Linked DNA regions of Homo sapiens: region 2 is linked to region 1. Evidence: fine-mapped expression QTL. A gene starts in region 1. The other region holds a variant in brackets. All regions are shown on one strand. Distances are between the middles of the regions.

Region 1 (5,365 bases):
GGTCAAGTTGATATTGGCTGAGCAGTTAGTGGTGGTCACGTCCCAGGCCTGGGGCCCCTGAGAGGCCATGGGCGTGGGCGCAGCCACATCTTTCGGGTTCTTCCAGAAGTTGTTGGGGTTCACCAGCTGTCCATTTGGCTTCTGGGCCTTCTGTGGCTCCAGGGTGGGTGGCGGAGGCTCCTGCAGAAACTGACCAGGGGTGAGACTGCGTTGGAACACCGTCACGGCCACGAGCAGGGCCAGGGCCAGGCACAGACTCCGGTAGACGGTTTTCTTCCTGTGGGGGAGAGCGGACAGTACAGAGGAGAGAGAAAAGATGAGCCCAGGGCTCTCCTGGCGCCCCCCTTGGGAGGCTGGGTGGTCCCAGACGGGCAAGTGGACCTGGGCACAGGCTCAGTCCCGGAGTCCCTAAGCTGTCAGGGTAGGGTCCCGCTTCCTCTCCCACCCTGCCCTTTCTTTCTCCCACCCTGCCCTCTCCTCAAGGAGCACTGTGGAATCAGGCCCTGACGCTTACAAGCTGAATGAGTGGTTTACAACCACTCTGAGCCACGATTTCTTCTTCCCCCAAATGGGGCTAAAACACAGGATTGGAGTGCTATATAAAGTACCAGGCAGCGGGTGCACAGTTAGGGGAATGCTGTCACCTTAACAGGAGGGCCTCAGGTGGAAACCTCTGCCCTGTTCCCCACGCCTGGAACCCCAATGCCTTTCATTTCCCTGCGGTGTACCTACCCACAGCAGTAGGTATCGGTATCATTAGGTGACTCAGAGCCAGAGTCATTGAGAGGGCACCCTCTGATCCTCTGTGCCGCCCGGGAGCTCCATCACATGTGGGGCACATTGGAGAGTGGCTCGAGCTTGGGACCTGAGGAAGACTGGCCCTCCTCCCCCTTCTCCAGTCTGTCTCACCCAACAAAGAGCAGCCCTCATGGTTGATGGAGGCCCAAGGATGCAGTGAGCACCTCTAGCATGGCACTGCCCCTCACCCCTACCTTAACATCCCCAGCTCATAACACCCCATTAGAAGACATGAGGCTACAGCTCTACTCCCTGGGAGGGGGCACATTTGCAGCTCCAGCCCTTGAGGGACCCTTCTTGCCCAGAGACCCCCCCACCCCAACCCCGGTCCACACCCATTTCGGAAGCAGAAATTAGAGCTCTCTGCCAGGAGTGCTGGTCGTCCCAAGCCCTGGGGCCTGAGCCCCTGTCCTGAAGGACCTCCTCTCTTCATCTCACCCTCCGGGGGCTGCCAGGACACCTGCCCCACCCTCCCCAGTGGAGACCTGGGGGCTGAGAGCTCTGGGGACAGCAGAGTGGCCTTCCAGGGCCAGCCTAGCAGAGAGATGGCGCTGACCTCCAAGGGGGAGGAGCAGGGTGCCAGGAGAGACAGGCAGCCCGTGGAGACGCCTGGGTTGCCCTGAGGGCTGGTCCGGTTGCAGGTCCAGGCCCCAGGGTGAATGCAGGCTGAGCCCCATAGAGCGACATTTTCCCCATAGGGTCCCCAGGTTGCTGGGGCATGTGGTTGGAGGAAGACAGGGGCACCTTAGGTGCAGGCTGGGGGGTGTGACCCAAGGTCCAGCTCTCCGGGGAGGAAACGGAGGGCTCCGGATCCGGCCCTGCCAGCCCTAGGGGTTCCAGGGAAGCCGCCCACCGAGGCCGGGACGGGGGAGGTCGGGGGGTGCACCGGGAAGGCGGCGAGGCCCTGGGCTGCGGGCGCTCCACCTGCCGGGTCCGCTCCATTCGTAGGGAAAGCCCGGGAGGGGCGGAGAGGGGCCGGGCGGGCGGCGGTCCGAGGTCCCGCGGAAGGAAGCCCCGAGAGGAGGAGAGTGGCCCGGACGCAGGGGGCCCTCAGGGGTCTGGAAGGGAGAGGGGACCCAGCTGCCGGCAAGACCTGGGGTCCCAGCCGCCAGGGTCCTGGAGCGGTGTCCAGGGCCGCGGGGCCGGGGAGCTGAGCGCGGCGCCCCGAGACCCCTCGACGTCCCCCACGGGTCCGGGGCCGCGTACCGCGAACATCTCCCGCCGCCGCCGCCGCGCCCGCCCGCCCATCCGCCCCCGGGAAACTGAGGCCGGCGCGGCGCGCGCGGGGGCATCTCCTATCCCGGGAGTCCCGGCGCCCGTCTGTGGCCACGGAGGAGGGGGAGCCCCGGGCCCACGCCCCCGCCCAGGCCCCCGACGGCCCCCAGCCCCACTCACCACAGCGACATGGCGGCCCGGGCCGGAGCGGCGGAGGGGCGAGCGGCTCGCAGCTCTGGGCGCCACGGCTCGGGCCGGCGGGACGGCGGGCGGGTGGGGACGGAGACCGGGCCGCGCCCCCGCCGCGACTTTCCTCTTCCCGGCCGCGGGAGGAGGGGCCGGCAGGGGCGGTGGCCCAGGTGCCTTAACCCCTTCGGCGCCCAGGGCCCGCCCCGCCGCCGCCTGGCGGGGACCACCCCATTTCTCCGAGACGGCCCCTAGGCTCCCCAAGCGCGCCTAGTAGACAGTGCATGGCCGAGGCGGGGCTTCGGAACCCACGGGGGTCACCTCCAATCCCGGGGACGCCTGTCCCTGGCGGAGCCTCCCGGGGCGGGGGGAGGGCGGTCGCCGGTCCCTCCTGTACTTGTGCGAAACCTGAACACCCGGTCCCCTCCAAGACCCTGGGGCACCCCAAGGCCCAGCCATTTCCCTCTGGCCCCATTCGGACTTGTCTTTGGGGCCAGAGGCAGACAGGGTGTCCTTTTCTCCCTCTGCTACCTTCTGCCCCTGCACCTTTCCCCTGACCAGACGGACCCCTTGCCCAGCTGTTGGGCTACCTAGGGCCAGGAGCAAAGCCAGCCACTAGGGAAAGAGGCCGTATGAGACTGGGCTCCATGTCAGGACTCGCCCAGGCCTGTGGCTCTGGAAGCTTTTTTTGTGCCCCCACCATGTCCCTCTCTTCACCTCTGGGGTTCCTCCCACCTCTGAGGGCTCCCCACCACCAAGGGAAGGCCTGTTGGCCCAGCCCTATCTCCTTTCTTTTTTCACTTATCACTCAAAACCCTTTTTGTCCTCAAGCCTTTATTAGTCTGCTTGTGCACATCAGGCCTAGCGGCTCTGGGGAGTGGGCTGACAGAGAACACGGAGAGGGCTTGGTCCAGCCAGGTGACTTCCAGAATCCTCCAGCAGGGAGAGCCATCGCTGGTCCTGTTGTTGCTCAGGTTGTTCTGGTCTTGTTCCGGGTTGAGGTTTCGGTGCTTAGCATCCAGCAGGACCTCCAAAAGGCCCACAGAATTGAAACGGAAGCACGTTGTGGTCCAATCATAACAGCTAACGTCCACTGAGCAGCTACAATATGCCAAACCTGGTTCTCGGCCCATGCATGACTGGCTCACTTAATCCTAGAGACATACGCTATTATTCCCACCTTACAGGGGAGGAAACGGGGGTGCAGAGGGGAACTCCCAGCCAGCTCAGAGAACAGCGAGCCCAGAGTTAGTAAGCACATCCAGGAGGCCTGCATGGCCTGAAGGCTGGCTCTGAACCCTTCCTGCCTGGTCTGAAGGCTGGCTCTGAGCCCTTCCTCAACCTTTTTTCCTTTCCCAGGGACAGCAGTGACATGGAGCTACTTTCCTGCCCAGCACACAGGGAGGCTAGGAGTCCTCAGCTGGATCTTAAGCCCTCGAGGCCAGGGTGAGGAGCCCCTTCTGCCCTATCCTTAAGGTTCAAGGGCCCTTTGGAGGGGGAGGAGAAACTTAAGGTACCATAGAATGTTCTGGAATGTTGTAAGTGCCAATTAGGGAATGTGAAGGGCCTTTCAGGCAGAATTTCAGAGGAGTATCTTGGGGCTGATGTCCTTTGTAATGGCCCTCCAAAAGTTCCAGAGCAGGGGAGGGGCTGACCTGCAGCCCAAAGCCCCTGTTGGCCTGGCTGCCTGCCACTGAGGGCCACCCGCAGATTCTGCAGCTCCACGGCTCCCTTCATCCCAGTGTAGCCTTGGCCACCGGTTCCCGCAGGGCACCAAGCATTTTGCTCCACTGCCCAGCCTTCCGAGTTCCCCACTTCACCCTGCAAGTGTGGCCCTGGCTTCCCTGGCTCCACACAGGTGCCCTGCTGAGAGCTGCCTCCCTGGCTTCAGCACTGACCTCTCACCCGGTGCTGTGGGGTCTCCTCCTCCTGCTGAGGGGTGGACACAGCCGTCCCTGGGAAGGGGGTTTTGAGCCCATGTTTGGGGATGGCAGGCATGGGCGTTGGGTCAGAGTCTTGCACTTCCTGGTTGTCACTGGGGGCAGGTGGCTTTTCCCCTTGAGACCTCAATTTCCTGCCAGCTCAGGGCCTTGTGAGATGACGCCAATGAAGCACAGACATAGGCATCCCCTATGTAAAGAACTTGGTGGCAGGCCGGCTACTGTTAGTGTTATCATTGATGTCCAGCTACTCCACAAAGCCCCAGAAGCACAAGGGCCAGAGGAGGTGGGAGCAGAGGGAGCTGCCCAAGGTCAGCGGAGTGTTTGCCAGTGGAATCTGGTCAGTTGAGACAGGCAGTTTGTCATCATGGAATCATTTGATCTGTGCCTAGTTTGAATTCAGAGAGGGGAAATGAATGACAATTAAATGCGAGTCCCTGATGGTGGGGTGGGGGTGGGGAGTGTGGAGCCGGGCCAGGCTCGGGTCAGCCTCCCCTGTTACTCCAATGTGCTCCCCTGTGGGGCAGCTGGGCCAGTCCCTATGGCAAGCACAGTGGTCCCCCCACCGCCAATCTGGCCAGTTCCACCTGCCCCAGCCAGAGGGCAGAGCCCCAGCAGATTCCTGTGGATTTAAGCGAGGCCCTGAGGAAGGCAGGCCTGTCTGCGATGGGATCTGCCTACCTGCTGTCCCCAACCCTGGCTGAAGGCAGAGCCCAGAGGTAGAGGGAAGTTCCAGAGTGGCAGATACCAGGAGAAGAGGGTGGGTGACGGATGAGCTGGCTGCATAGGCTGCAGGAGTCCCAAGCCAAGGTGGAGGTGGGTTCTGTGTCCTTGTCACAAGGCCACTCTGTGCACCTCAGGTTGCTCCCTTGGAGGGGGAAGCTCGTGAGCCAGGACGTTGGAGGACCCCAAGAAATGCCCCCTTCCCCAGTACATCTTTTGGCCCCTCAGCCCATCCCTACCTCCACCTCCACTTTCTTTTATATCCCACCCCTTCAACCTTCCAGAATAGGTTGGAATCCGACCCTGCTGGTAACCCCAGCACAGGCCTTTGCCCAGAGGCGAGGGCTGCAGAGACCCAAGGGTGGGAGTATCTGACTGGCCAGAAAACACACTGGGTCAGTGGCTTGACTGGACAAGGTGGGGGCCAACTTGGGTCAGAGGGACCCCCAAAGCAGAAGGTGAGGAGTCTTGCGTGCCTTGCAGAGAGGTGGCCATCGTGGGGC
Region 2 (5,365 bases), 27 kb before region 1:
CAGAGCTGGGAGGACAGACCAGACACCAAGCAAGACCAAGAACTCTCCACTATTTCTGACTCTGGATGAGCGGGGTGCAGGGTCTTGAGGAGTAACTGGGGAACGGGACTGCAGAGACTACAATTCCCTCAGGGAATGTGGCTGTGGGATGAGAGTAGGGACACAGCTGAAGAGGTTCATGGGGTTGAAGGAGTTTCTTGTTTTTGTTTGTTTTCAACACGTAAAAGTCTTGAGCCCATTTAAAAGGCCATGGAGCTAGGCGCGGTGGCTCAGGCCTGCAATCCCAGCACTTTGGGGGGCTGAGGTGGGCGGGTCACATAAGGTCAGGAGTTCGAGGCCAGCATGGTGAAACCCTGTCTCTACTAAAAATACAAAAATTAGCTGGGCGTGTTGGCAGGTGCCTGTAATCTCAGCTACTTGGGAGGCTGAGGTGTGAGAATCGCTTGAACCTGGGAGGCAAAGGTTGCAGTGAGCCGAGATGGCACCACTGCACTCCAGCCTGGGCAACAGAATGAGACCCCGTCTCAAAAAAAAAAAAAAAAAAGAAAAGAAAAGAAAAGAAAAGGCTATGGAGAAGGATTAGTGGAGCAATGGATGTTGACCACAGAAGAGAGACAGTGGTCCTAAGCGCTTGGGAAGGGTGGGCTCTGAGACTCAGGTGGAGGCAAGCAGGGGATGGGTCTTTTGTTTTTAAACTGGAGGTGCTCTTCCCACGAGTCCTTCCACGTGCTCTTTGAATTAAAAGGCAAGGTCATCTGATGAAAAGAGGGGAGATGTCAGAGTCAGAGGTTTGAGAAGTGCAGAGGTCTCAAATGTGCCCAGGAAACATGGAATTAGACCCAAGTCCACACGATAATTCAGTACGTAATAAATCTGCCACTTCCACTGGTGTTGGCGTAACTGGAATACCATCTGCCTAGAGGAAAAATTATATTAATATCTTTTTTTTTTGAGACAGGGTCTCACTCTGTCACCCAGGCTGGAGTGCAGTGGTGTGATCATGGCTCACTGCTCCCAGGTTCAGGTGATACTCCTGTCAGTCTCCTGAGTAGCTAGGACCACAGGCACACACCACCACTCCTGGCTAATATTTTTAGACTATTATTTGTAGAAATGGGGTGTCACTATGTTGCTCAGGCTGATCTTGTGCTCCTGGAATCAAGTGATCATCCTGCCTTGGCCTCCAAAAGTGCTGAGATTACAGGCATGAGCCACCACGCCCAGCAATACCTCATGTCTTATATTAAAATACATTTCAGGTGGATCAAATATGTTAATGTAAAAAGTGAAATATGACAGTACTAGAAGAAAATATGGAAAATTTATTTTATAACTTAAAGTTGGAAAGAGCTTTTTAAATTTAATTTTTATTTATTTATTTTTTCCAAGACAGAGTCTTGCTCTGTTGCCCAGAGCTGGAGTGCAATGGCGCGATCTCGGCTCACTGCAACCTCCGCCCCCCAGGATCAAGCAATTCTCCTGCCTCAGCCTCCCTAGTAGCTGGGATTACAGGCATGCGCCACCAGGCCCGGCTGATTTTTGTATTTTTAGTAGAGACGGGGTTTCATCATGCTGGCCAGGCTGGTCTCAAACTCCTGACCTCGTGACCCACCCGCCTCGGCCTCCCAAATTGCTGGGATTACGGGTGTGAGCCACCACGTCCAGTCTTGTTTTTAATTTTTAAATTTTCAGTGCTTTTTGGGTAGGAGAGGACTTTCTAAGAATAACGACATAGTACCTAGAAGCCATTAAGGAAAAGATGGAAAATTTACATTAAAATATCACTGTATCACAGAAAAATTATGAACAAAGTCAAAAGATAGATGACAAATGGAAAAATATTTTCAGTGCATATCAGATAAATGTCTTTAATGAACCCCTTCAACAAATAAGTAAAAGTCAATCCCATTTTAGTAGGTGTCGCAATGGAAAAAAAGACAAAGACAAAGACAAATAAGCCAATAGAAAAATAGGCAAAGGATATGAACCAACCGCGAAGCAGGCTCACCGTGCGCGGCTTACCAACTTGTCGGCATCTGGTGAGACGGAACACACTCACATGTACCCAGTTACACGATGA[G/C]GATTTATTACAGATTGGCAGCAAGGGGCAACAGAGGCCTAGGATTCATTCAGAGCCAGTTCCCCAGGCTCAGGCCAGCTGCCCAGGGCTGATGGAATCTTGACTTCATGCGTCCCACCTGCACCATGGCTGAAGAACCCTGAAAAGCAGCCTGCCCTGAGCTTTATGCTCTGTGAGTGGCTGAGCTACAGTGTTGAAGGACACCCTGTTTCTTTTCTTTTTTTTTTTTTTGAGACAGAGTCTCGCTCTTGTTGCCCAGGCTGGAGTACAGTGGTGCGATCTTGGCTCACCGCAACCTCCACCTCCCGGGTTTAAGCAATTCTTCTGCCTCAGCCTCCCGAGTAGCTGGGATTACAGGTGCCTGCCACCATGCCTGGCTAATTTTTTGTATTTTTGGTAGAGACGGGGTTTCACCATGTTGGCCAGGCTAGTCTTGAACTCCTGACCTCAGGTGATCTGCCTGCCTTGGCCTCCCAAAGTGCTGGGATTACAGGCATGAGCCACCCTGTTTCTAAGGCGGAACTGGAACAGAGCCTGAGCAGTTCTGGCCAGCTCCCCCTTATCTCAAGATGTTGCATTTCTAGCACATTCTACAGTTAATTTTCAGAACTACAAGCAAGAAAGATGGGAGAACCGGGCTGGTTTAAGGTCACCTAGAAAATTGTCCTGTACAAATCTTTCTCAGGAAAGGAAATATGAATGATTCAAACACATGAAAAGATGTTAATGTCACTCAGAGTAGGAGAAATGCAAATTAAAACAACACTATGTGCATTTTCTTACCTGTTAGATTGGTGATGATCACCAGGTTTGCTGACACATTTCATGTACCTGCTGTTTGGGACAATTGCCAGGGAGGGTGAGTTGGGAATAGCTAGTTATCTGTTATGGACTGAGTTGCATCCCCTCAAAATTCACACGCTGAAGTCCTAACCTCCAGTACCTCAGAATGTGACTGTATTTGGAGACAGGGTCTTTAAAGAGGGAATTAAGTTAAAATGAGATTGTTAGGGTGGGGCCCTAATCCAATATGACAGATGTCTTTATAAGAAGAGGAAATTTGGACACATACACCCATAGAGTGAAACTAACTCTGCCAACATCTTAATCTCAGACTTCAGCCTCAGACTGTGAGGAAATAAATTTTCCGTTGTTTAAGCCACCCAGTCTGTGGTTCTCTGTTATGGCAGCCCTAGCAAACTAATACACCAGCAACCTTGAAACTGACCTGAAAATTTGACTTCTAGTAACTTATACTACAGATAGACTGGCATGTGTTCCTGGCATGTGCAGGATATGCGAGGGTATTGTTTGTAGCAGTCAGGGTTCAATCAAGAAAACAGAAGCCACTCTAGGTATTTTGAGCAGAAAGAGAAGCATTGGAAGGGCTGGGAGAGGAAAGGCCAGGAAAGTTCTAGAAGTTAGGAGATGGCAGGGAAGTCATCACCAGTGATCCTCGGTGCTGGCAGGGCCAAAGCACATGATGCCCAGGGGGACACCTGGAGCTGCCGGAAGCTGTCACCAAGGATCTCAGGCTGGTCTCGAACTCCTGACCTCAAGTGATCCGCCAGCCTTGGCCTCCCAAAGTGCTGGGATTACAGGTGTGAGCCACTGTGTCTGGCTGGATCTCAGCTGCTTATAGCACTGCAGTGGGGGTCATGCAGGGTGATGCCCAGAAGCCGAGGAAAGGAGTCTGCCATGAGTTTTGCTGCCTAACCATAGTAGCTGCTGGAGACCAATGGCTTCTGCTTCCTTCATGGGCAGAATTCAGCCTAGGACATACTGGAAAGGGGCTCTGGAAATGCAGGGAGATGTAGAAGGGGATGGGAGTGATGTTACATTAACAAGGACTGATCTAGCACCGTCCATCCACAGAGGCTGGTTAAATACACCATGGTTTGTTCAGACGGAACACCAAGCAGCTTCAAATGGAATGCAGAAACTCCGCATTTTCTGCCCGGTGACCCTCAGCAGTGTGGGTGGCCAAATGGGTGGCCCACAGACTCTGAGAAGGCCCGGAAAGGTTGTGAGGACAGAGCCCTGACCGAGGGACAAAGCAGTCCCTGTCAACCTGGATAACAGCCTCAGCCCTCCTAGTCCCCAGAGTGAGAGGAGCGGGGCCAAGAAACAAGCACTTTTAGCAACACCAAGGGCTTCAAAAGTTCTGTCTGGAGCAAGAACAGGAGCCAGCCTGGGACTGGGGTCTCCGTAGGCCACTGCTTTTCCTCCAGCGCCAGTGAGGTGAGGCTGGCACTCAGGCTGGTCAAGGAATGCAGAGGAAGACAAGTCCCCCATTCATCCCCTGAAAAGGGGGCTGCACCTGGCGCAGGAGTGTGTCCAGGCTGCTGGGGTGCTGGGGCCCTGCCCTCTCCTTCACCCCCAGATTTCAGTCCAGATGACCCTTTATGAGCTCATGCTCTTTGTCTGCTACTTTTTTTTTTTTTTTTTTTTTTTGAGACAAGGTCTTGCTCTATTGCTCAGGCTGGAGTGTAGTGGCACGATCATAGCTCACTGTAACCTTGAACTCCTGGGCTCAAGCGATCCTTCTGCCTCAACCTGCTGAGTAGCTAGGGCTACAAGGGTGCACCACCGCGTTGGCTGATTTTTGAATTTTTTGTAGAGATGGAGTCTCACGATGTTGCCCAGGCTTGTCTGGAACTCCTGGGCTCAAGGGAGCTTCCCAAAGTGCTGGGATTACAGGGTGAGCCACTGCACCCAACTGCCTGCTACTTCTTGTTTTATGGAGGTCCTTTTGGTTTCTCTTTTTTCCTTTTTGAGACAGGGTCTTGCTCTGTCATCCAGGCTGGAGTGTAGTGGTGCAAACATGGCTCACTACAGCCTCGACTTCCTGGGCTCAAGCGATCCTCCTGCCTCAGCTTCCCTGATAGCTGGAACCACAGGTGTGCACCACCACGCAGGGCTCATCTTTTAAATTTTTTGTAGAGATGGGTCTCCCAGGCTGGTCTTGAACTCCCAGGTTCAAACAATCCTCCCACCTGGGCCTCCCAAAGTGTTGGGATTACAGGTGTGAGCCATTGTGCCCAGCTACTTCTTGTTTTTTAATTTTAAAACACATAGGTCGAAATTGTTTTGTTTGTGTGTGACTTTAGACACACATTGTTCAATCTAGCACACCTACCATTCTGAGTTACCTGGCTCCTCCTAGCTTTTCTGTTTAAGTTGGCTTATCTTTTCCTGGCTATCTCATTCCTTTACCTTTATTATTTCACTTCTGTATCTTTTTTTTTTTTTTTTTTTTTGAGACAGAGTCTCTCTCTGTCGCCC

Direction of the effects. Alleles are on the strand shown, and positions count from the first base shown. SD is a standard deviation of normalised expression in the study named.
With allele G in place of C in region 2, the expression in atrial appendage of the gene that starts at base 2,298 in region 1 is higher (moderate effect, 0.41 SD a copy in GTEx).

What was found. PIP is the estimated chance that this variant, and not a neighbour inherited with it, causes the effect. A credible set is the group of variants that fine-mapping cannot tell apart.
Region 2: its variant is the best candidate, but not a certain one, in a credible set for the expression of B3GNT7 in atrial appendage (GTEx, PIP 0.87).

What each region holds. Positions count from the first base shown.
Region 1 is chr2:231,392,643-231,398,007 of GRCh38, reverse strand. B3GNT7 (UDP-GlcNAc:betaGal beta-1,3-N-acetylglucosaminyltransferase 7) reads right to left here and starts at 2,298. Exons shown (of 2, transcript NM_145236.3): 1 at 2,194-2,298; 2 at 1-277. The coding sequence starts at 2,204. RefSeq lists enhancers at 687-756, 1-898, 3,167-3,216, 3,512-4,093, 4,094-4,676 and 1 more and a silencer at 2,147-2,616.
Region 2 is chr2:231,420,066-231,425,430 of GRCh38, reverse strand. No RefSeq gene overlaps it. Among named protein-coding and RNA genes, the nearest start is that of B3GNT7, 27 kb to the right of the region's middle. RefSeq lists an enhancer at 4,528-5,028. The variant G/C (reference allele first, on the strand shown) is at 2,081.